Homo sapiens: one gene and its partner. The protein of the gene in region 2 purifies or fractionates together with the protein of the main gene of each other region. This does not show direct contact. Each region holds a gene or a part of one and is shown on either strand. Other genes may lie near its edges.

Region 1 (3,798 bases), on a different chromosome or scaffold from region 2:
TCTTTCATGACAATGAGGTGTCATCTGATGAGTATGTTGAAATGTTGACCTTCTCCCCCAAGCAAAATACTTCTCAACCTATCTCTGAACATAGGGCTCCCCATCCCCACTGTGAGACCATCAACTGAGCCTAAATACAGTGTAGTATAATACCTTGGGGATGAAAAGAATGAATGAAAACAAAGATGCATACCTCCAGTTTGTGGATGCTCCTACTATCTCCCGCAACTTATCTCGAACTGAAACAAAAATAAAGAGGTCATTCCATGAAACAAAGAAATATGAGAAACGGATTATGGCAATGAGCTCAAGAACTACAAAAAGCAATTCATGCACTCAAAAGATTTAAAGATCCATAGATTTCCATTTAATGCCACAACAAACAGCTCAGGGACAGGATCAAGCCTCTGCTCCCTAAAAACCTGAAAGAACTATACTGTCTCTTTAAAGGTGCACAAATGAATACCTTTGTGCCAATCACTAGGGTTTATATAAACAAACAAAAAAGGATAACTTCAATTATTCACTTAATGGGGCTGTATCAGTGTTAGCCAGTAAGAGCCATTATGATGGAGATATGAACAGGATTCCCACCTATCTTCTTTTTTGTTGTTTTTTTTGAGATGGTCTCACTCTGTCACCCAGGCTAGAGTTCGGTGGCACAATCTCGGCTCACTGCATCCTCCACCTCCCGGGTTCAGGCGATTCTCCTGCCTCAGTCTCCCAAGTAGCTGGGATTACAGGCGCTGTGCCACCACACCCGGCTAATTTTTGTAGTTTTGTTTTGTTTTGTTTTGTTTGAGACAGAGTTTCGCTCTTGTTGCCCAGCCTGGAGTGCAATAGCACGATCTCAGCTCACTGCAACCTCCGCCTCCCGGGTTCAAGTGATTCTCCTGCCTCAGCCTCCCGAGTAGCTGGGATTGCAGGCAGGCATCACCATGCCCTGCTAATTTTGTATTTTTAGTAGAGATGGGGTTTCACTATGTTGGTCAGGCTGGTCTTGAACTCCTGACCTCAGGTGATCCGCCTGCCTCGGCCTCCCAAAGTGCTGGGATTACAGGTGTGAGCCACTGCGCCTGGCCCCCACCTATCTTCTTATACGCAGTAATAGATCAAATTACTTAGTTCAGAGACTAATACTAATATCCAAATCTGAGTCTCATTATAATTAATTTCTCATATATTTATAGTCTCCTGGTTGTTAGAAAAGTTTAAGCCAGAAAAATGAAGCAAAGACTTACATCAAGCTAAGGCAAAGAATGCAATTTTAGTTAATGCCACTGCCCAAAAGTGCAAGCGTATATTAGTGCTTACAAAATTTAAGCTCTTAAAAGAAAAGCTGATACTAATTACCACACACACCATGATTCACATGTATAGATGAACATGCTATATGAATAAAGGGAAAATCAATTAGAGAACCAGCAATAATTCAAAACTAAAAGATAAATCTGTAGTATTTCAAATACTGTGTTGAGTTTATGTGTTTTTCCTAGCACTTCAAAATATACATTCCAGTTATAGGAAATTAACTATAGCAATCCTCAGTCCTTCAATAACTAACTGATCAAAACCAAATATAATTTATATGAACATGCATTTTAACTTTCATGAAAAATGGTTGATTTTTCTATCAAACAATTTTGGATACACCATAAATTTGATGTATAATTACAACTAAATGTTAGAGAACTGCAAACAACAACCATTAGTAACTTAGTCTTATTTCTGATTTTTTCCTCCTAAGTTCCTTGAATAAAAGAATGGATGGGGCCGAGGTGGGTGAATCATGAGGTCAGGAGTTCAAGACCAGCCTGGCCAAGATGGTGAAACCCCGTCTCTACTAAAAATACAAAGATTAGCCTGGCATGGTGGGCACCTGTAATCCCAGCTACTCAGGAGGCTGAGGCAGAGAATCACTTGAACCTGGGAGGCGGAGGTTGCAGTGAGCCAAGATCCCACCACTGCACTCCAGCCTATGCGACAGAGTGAGACTTCATCTCAAAAAAAAAAAAAAAAAAAAAAGGCTCACACCTGTAATCCCAGCACTTTGGGAGGCCAAGACAGGCAGATTACTTGAGGCCAGGAGTTCAAGACCAGCCTGGCCAACGTGGCGAAACTCCATCTCTCCTAAAAATACAAAAATTAGTTGGGCGTGGTGGAGCATGCCTGTAATCCTAGCTACTAGGGAGGCAGAGGTTGCAGTGAGCCGAGATCCTGCCACTGCACTCCAGCCTGGGTGACAGAGCAAGACTCCATCCCAAAAAAAAAAAAAAAAAAAAAAAAAAAAAAGAATGGACAGAAAGTACCTCAAATAGTACATGGACTACTGATGCTCACTGACATAAAATAATTACTACTAGCTTAATCAGTGTAAGAAGAGAGGCAAGTATTGAGGGCCAAGAAGGAAAAACTTTTTAATTTTACTTACATATATATTTATATACACACATAATATAAATTTATTTGGACCCTTTAAAGAAGCCGCAATTTTAATTATAACGAATACTCCTAGTTTAATAAAGACAATCCATAGTTTACGTATCATATTGGTAATTGAAATTAACTTTAATTAAGCATGGACTAACAGGATCCCTCGAACATAACTATGGACTAGGAGTGTTTACTTGATACAACTAATGGGCCCATCTCTTTTTTTCCATGCCTTCAGAACCTACACACAGGAAGTGGAAATCACCTAACTAAAAGAGCTCAGTCCTCAAGGCTCCCAGGAACAATAGTTCAAAATCTGAATGTGACTTCTATCTGAAGCTATTAATATTATGCAGCTATCCTGGTCATTTTGTCAATGAAATGTTTATGAAAGATCTACCTTTAATATGCCTCATTTGCTCTAAACTATCACTCTATATACCTTTCAAATAAAAGTAAAACAAGGTTTTTCACCACATAGGCATCAAACAGAGACACCATGCTTGCCTTCATGAATGTGGAAGATTCCCTGTTTCTTGGGGTTCTGGGGTCCTTGAGTCAGTCCTCTTCCAGGAGTAAGCTGCCCTTTGCCCAAGGCACAAAGCCTATAAAACAAGATAAAACACAGAGCAGATCCCACAGCTTCTTCCCTGGCAACCCTAAAGACCTACCCTCCTCCCAGAGTATCTGGCCATATCACCCTTAGTATATATTGTCTTGTAGGAGTCTGTAGCTGTTTCACAAGTATATGTATGTTTTCATGAGGCTATTCCATAAATCATCTCTCCCACTAGAGTAAACATTTCTTGAGAGCAGAGACCAATTAGGTAATTATCTACAAAATAAATAAAAGACGGCAACTAGGTTTAATGCATTTATTATTGGTCTTTCTATTTTATTAGTTTCAGAAGTCCATAATCGATTTAGTAAACAACTGAGCAAACTCATTATGAACAATTTATTCTGTTCTTTATTATCGCACCATATTTCCTCAATAAATAAGATAAACCCAATTATAAAGTAAACTTTGAAAATTGAATTAGCCCTTTCCAGATGCAAAGAAAGTATTTATTTAACTTACGCAGAAATTTTCTAGAGTCCCAACACAATAAAATAAAAGCTATCTACTGGCCACGGTGGCACAGGCCTGTAATCCCAGCACTTTGGGAGGCTGAGGCAGGTAGACAGGTTGAGCCCAGGAGTTCAAGACCAGCCTGGGCAACATGGCAAAACCCCATCTCTACAAAAAATACAAAAATTAGCCGGGCGTGGTGGCATGCACCTGTGGTCCCAGCTACTCAAGAGGCTCAGATGGGAGGATCACTTGAACCCAGGAGGTCGAGGCTGCAGTGAGCCAAGATTGTA
Region 2 (4,097 bases):
TAAGACTCTGTCTAAAATTAGCCAGGCATGGTGATGCATGCCTGTGGTACCAGCTACAAGGAAAGCTGAGATGGCAGGACTGCTTGAGCCCAGAAGGTCAAGGCTGAAATGAGCAGTGTTTGTGGCACTGCACTTCAGCCTGGGTGACAGAGCAAGATCCTGTCTCAAAAAACCAAAAAACCTTTGAACCACTTCTATCAGTAGATCCTGAAACACTGGCTTTGGAATGGCTGTTTTGTTTACTTCAAAGGAGCTGATTTAAAAGGCCAGAAAACAGTAAAAAAAAAAATTAACGAAACAGTGATTTAACATTTGACATTTTAAACTGTACCTCCAAAGTTAAAGTTAAAACACAAATGAACCCACTTATCATCATGTGCATCCTGAGGTGATGTCAACATGAGATACTGTACAAGACAACTGATCTAATTTCTTCAAAAGTCAATTGCTTTTAAAAAGGGGGGAAGAATAAGTAAGGGGGATTTGCTCTAGTTCAAGAGAATCAGTGGTCAGGTGCAGTGGCTCACACCTGTAATCCTAGCGTTTTGGGAAGCCAAAGCGGGCGATCACTTGAGCCCATGAGTTTGAGGCCAGCCAGGGCAACACAGCAAGACCCCACCTACAAACACACACGCACGCACGCACACACACATACACACAGCCAGGTGTGGCGGCACATGCCTATTGTTCTAGCTAGTTGGGAGGATGAGGCGAGACGATTGCTTGAGCCCAGGAATTCAAGGCTGTAGTGAGCTATCATCATGCCACTGCACTCCAGCCTGGGTGACAGAATAAGACCCTGTGTCTTAAAAAAAAAAAAAAAACACACACACACACAGAGAATTATGGACATAACAATCAAATGCAGTGTGTAGACCTTATCTGGATTCTGTATTTTTGTCCGGTGTGCTGGCTCACACCTGTAATCCCAGCACTTTTGGAGGCCGAGGTGGGTGAATGACTTGAGTCCGGGAGTTCTAGACCAGCCTGGCCAACATGGTAAAACCTTGTCTCTACTAAAAATACAAAACTTAGCTGGGCATGGTGGCGCATGCCTCTAGTTCCAGCTACTCAGGAGGCTGAGGCAGGAGGATCACATGAAACTGGGAGGCAGAGAGAGGATGCAGTGAGCCAAGATCACACCACCGCACTCCAGCCTAGGCGGCAGAGTGAAACTCCGTTGCCAAAAAAAAAAAGGCTATTTTTGGTATAATTGGGAAAATGCTATTATGAACTGTTATTAGATAATATACTATTGCTAACAGTGTTAGATATAACATTGAAATTATGTAAAAAAATTTTTTTAAAAGATGCATACTAAAAAAAACCCAGATGAAGCAAATATAACAGATGTTACATTTTATATATAAATGTGTTAATCTAGCTGCTCTAGGTACTCTGTCTATGGGTTAGTCCCTGCCCCACAAGGAGCAGTCAAGCCGGATGCGGTGGCTCACGCCTGTAATCCCAGCACTTTGGGAGGCCGAGGCGGGCGGATCACAAGGTCGAGAGATCGAGACCACCCTGGCCAACATGGTGAAACCCCGTCTCTACTAAAAATACAAAAAAAGCCGGGCATGGTGGCAGGCGCCTGTAATCCCAGCTACTTGGGAGGCTGAGGCAGGAGAATCGCTTAAACCAGGGAGGCAGAGGTTGCAGTGAGCCAAGATCGTGCCATTGCACTCTAGCCTAGGCAAAAAGAGTGAAACTCTGTCTCAAAAAAAAAAAAAAGGAGCAGTCGAAAAAAAATTGTTAATCTAAATTATGGGCATTTGATGGCTCACTACACTACTCTCTCTACTTTTCTATGTTTGGATAACTTTTCAGTCATATTACAGCACATTCATCAAAATGACTTAATGTGTAACACTTCTGCATCATTAGTATCTGCTTTACTCACCGATTACCAATTTCTTCCCTGTGTTTCAACAGGGCTTGGTTGGCCATTTCTGGTTCTTCAAATTGCACATAGGCTTCCCCTGTTTTTCGCCTCCCTCTATAGTCCATCACAAAAGTAATGTCAACTATATTCAGTCCTAGGACACCAAGAGATTTTAATGCTACTAGCAGGCTTTTTTATCCTTAGAATTAACACCATCATTCACATACTAATAAAATTTTTATTCTGTTTTGCCAGTCCCAAAACTGAATACATGCTTGACAGGAAGAAAATTATTATGCAGTCAAAAGTCAGTCAACACCTACATACTTGTATTTCCAGAATAGGTAAGGTCCAAGAAGCCCACCCAAAACATACAATTCTCCCCACCAGTTTTTTTTTTTTTTTTTGCTGTTAATTATATACTAGGAAACAATAGAAATCACAGACTTCACTGCTAATGGTTCTAGGAATTAGAAAATACTTTTAAATTATATAAATTGTTATTGTCTTACACAAATACAGCAACTATTATGAGAAGTTATTTCCTTCAATAGTAAAACCCTCATGAAATTATTCTGAAATCTGACTTCCCTCCTAAAATCTGCCTGATAGAACAAAAACACATATAAAATCTATAAATATTAGAAATTTAAGTGAAGAGCTCTCCCCTAAAGAACCTAATATAACTGCATGCCTTTGCCCAGAAACAGGCTCATCTAAGATATAGAAGGAGATACCAAGGGAAAAAAGATATGAGCTCCCAAGCATAATACAACTGCAAAGTACCTGCAAAGAAGTCTACAATGTCTTTCTCATTGCAACTATAAGGAAGTCCTCTCAAACGAACCACACCATCATTTACCACAGGCGAAGATTTGACCTGCAAGCTCTTCATTAAGGCATCCACATCTTCATTGTTTATCTCATATACTACGAAGAAAAAACCCAACAGGGATGAAAAATTTACATAACAAAGGAACAAACCCATTAAAAAAAATCATTACAACTTGCTGGGTTATCTGAGAATTCAATAACTATTTTAATCTTTATGCGCTTCTCTAGAGAAAATAACAAATGACATTTATTGCATATTTACCATGCGGGCATAACTTCTTTATTTCTCACAGCTTGTAAGATACTTCATTGGCCAGGCACACTGGCTCACGCCTATAATCCCAGAACTTTGGGAGGCCAAGGCGGGTGGATTACCTGAGGTCAGGAGTTTGAGACCAGCCTGACCAATATGGTAAAACCCCATCTCTAATAAAAATACAAAAATTAGCTGGGTATCATGGCATGTGCCTGTAGTCCCAGCTACTTGGGAGGCTGAGACAGGAGAATTGCTTGAACCCAGGAGGCAGAGGTTGCAGTGAGCTGAAATCGCACCACTGCACTCCAGCCTGGGTGACAGAGTGAGATTCCATCCCCCCCACAAAAAAAAGAAACTTTATCTCTTTATGTTTTATTTTCACATCCTATAAAAGAATGCATTCATACAATCTAAATACTTCATTATTAAGGATCAAATAAAAACTACCTTGAAAAGTATAAAACCTAATGCAATGATCCCAAAAAGCCATAATCTGACTTCACATACCTTCCACATACCGCTGGCCCATGTACATGCGGTGCTTCTCTAAGGCTTTCTGCACATCCTGCTCTGACTCCATTTCAATTAAGGCATCACCCCTTCGTTTCCCATCTCTGTTTAGGAGAAAATGTATTCCATTCTCACCGTTGCGGATTCTGCAGTCTAAAAGTGTATGAGCAAAATCAATTGAAAACAGAAATCAAACTTTTAGCTCAATTATGTAAGTCACAAGAATGCAGTTTTCCAACAACAAAGCAGGAAACAAGTGTCATATTCCTTACACAAATCCCCATCACTGAAGTCATCCAAACACCAATAAGGATTTAGTCTCTAAAACCTTCCAAGTAGAAAAGATAAGCAAACCTTAGCACAGAAGCTTATGATCTCCTTCCTGATCATTAAATAGCAAATCAGGATAGGCCCAACACAAAATTCATTATTTCTATTGCAATGTTTCTACAATCACTTAAGGAAATACAATATAGTTAAATTTATACATAAGTGTCTTCCTTTAAAATCATCTCCATAGGTCTCTAAAATATTTCCTGTATGAGTAATTTTATTACCATAGTTTAACTTTTTGTTTTTGTAGAGAGGCGGTCTCATTTTGTTGCACAGGCTGGT

What was found.
Region 1: the proteins of GRSF1 (region 2) and ACOT9 purify together in Homo sapiens (affinity purification with mass spectrometry, with the first as the bait; one study listed by BioGRID). This does not show direct contact.

The regions. Positions count from the first base shown.
Region 1 is NC_000023.11:23,732,979-23,736,776, forward strand, and holds part of ACOT9 (acyl-coenzyme A thioesterase 9, mitochondrial isoform a precursor), read right to left. Parts: intron 3,039-3,798; coding exon 2,941-3,038; intron 1,390-2,940; coding exon 1,363-1,389; intron 240-1,362; coding exon 194-239; intron 1-193. UniProt on the Homo sapiens protein: Mitochondrial acyl-CoA thioesterase. Catalyzes the hydrolysis of acyl-CoAs into free fatty acids and coenzyme A (CoA), regulating their respective intracellular levels. Regulates both mitochondrial lipid and amino acid metabolism.
Region 2 is NC_000004.12:70,829,639-70,833,735, forward strand, and holds part of GRSF1 (G-rich sequence factor 1), read right to left. Parts: intron 3,636-4,097; coding exon 3,480-3,635; intron 2,813-3,479; coding exon 2,669-2,812; intron 2,037-2,668; coding exon 1,901-2,036; intron 1-1,900. UniProt on the Homo sapiens protein: Regulator of post-transcriptional mitochondrial gene expression, required for assembly of the mitochondrial ribosome and for recruitment of mRNA and lncRNA. Binds RNAs containing the 14 base G-rich element.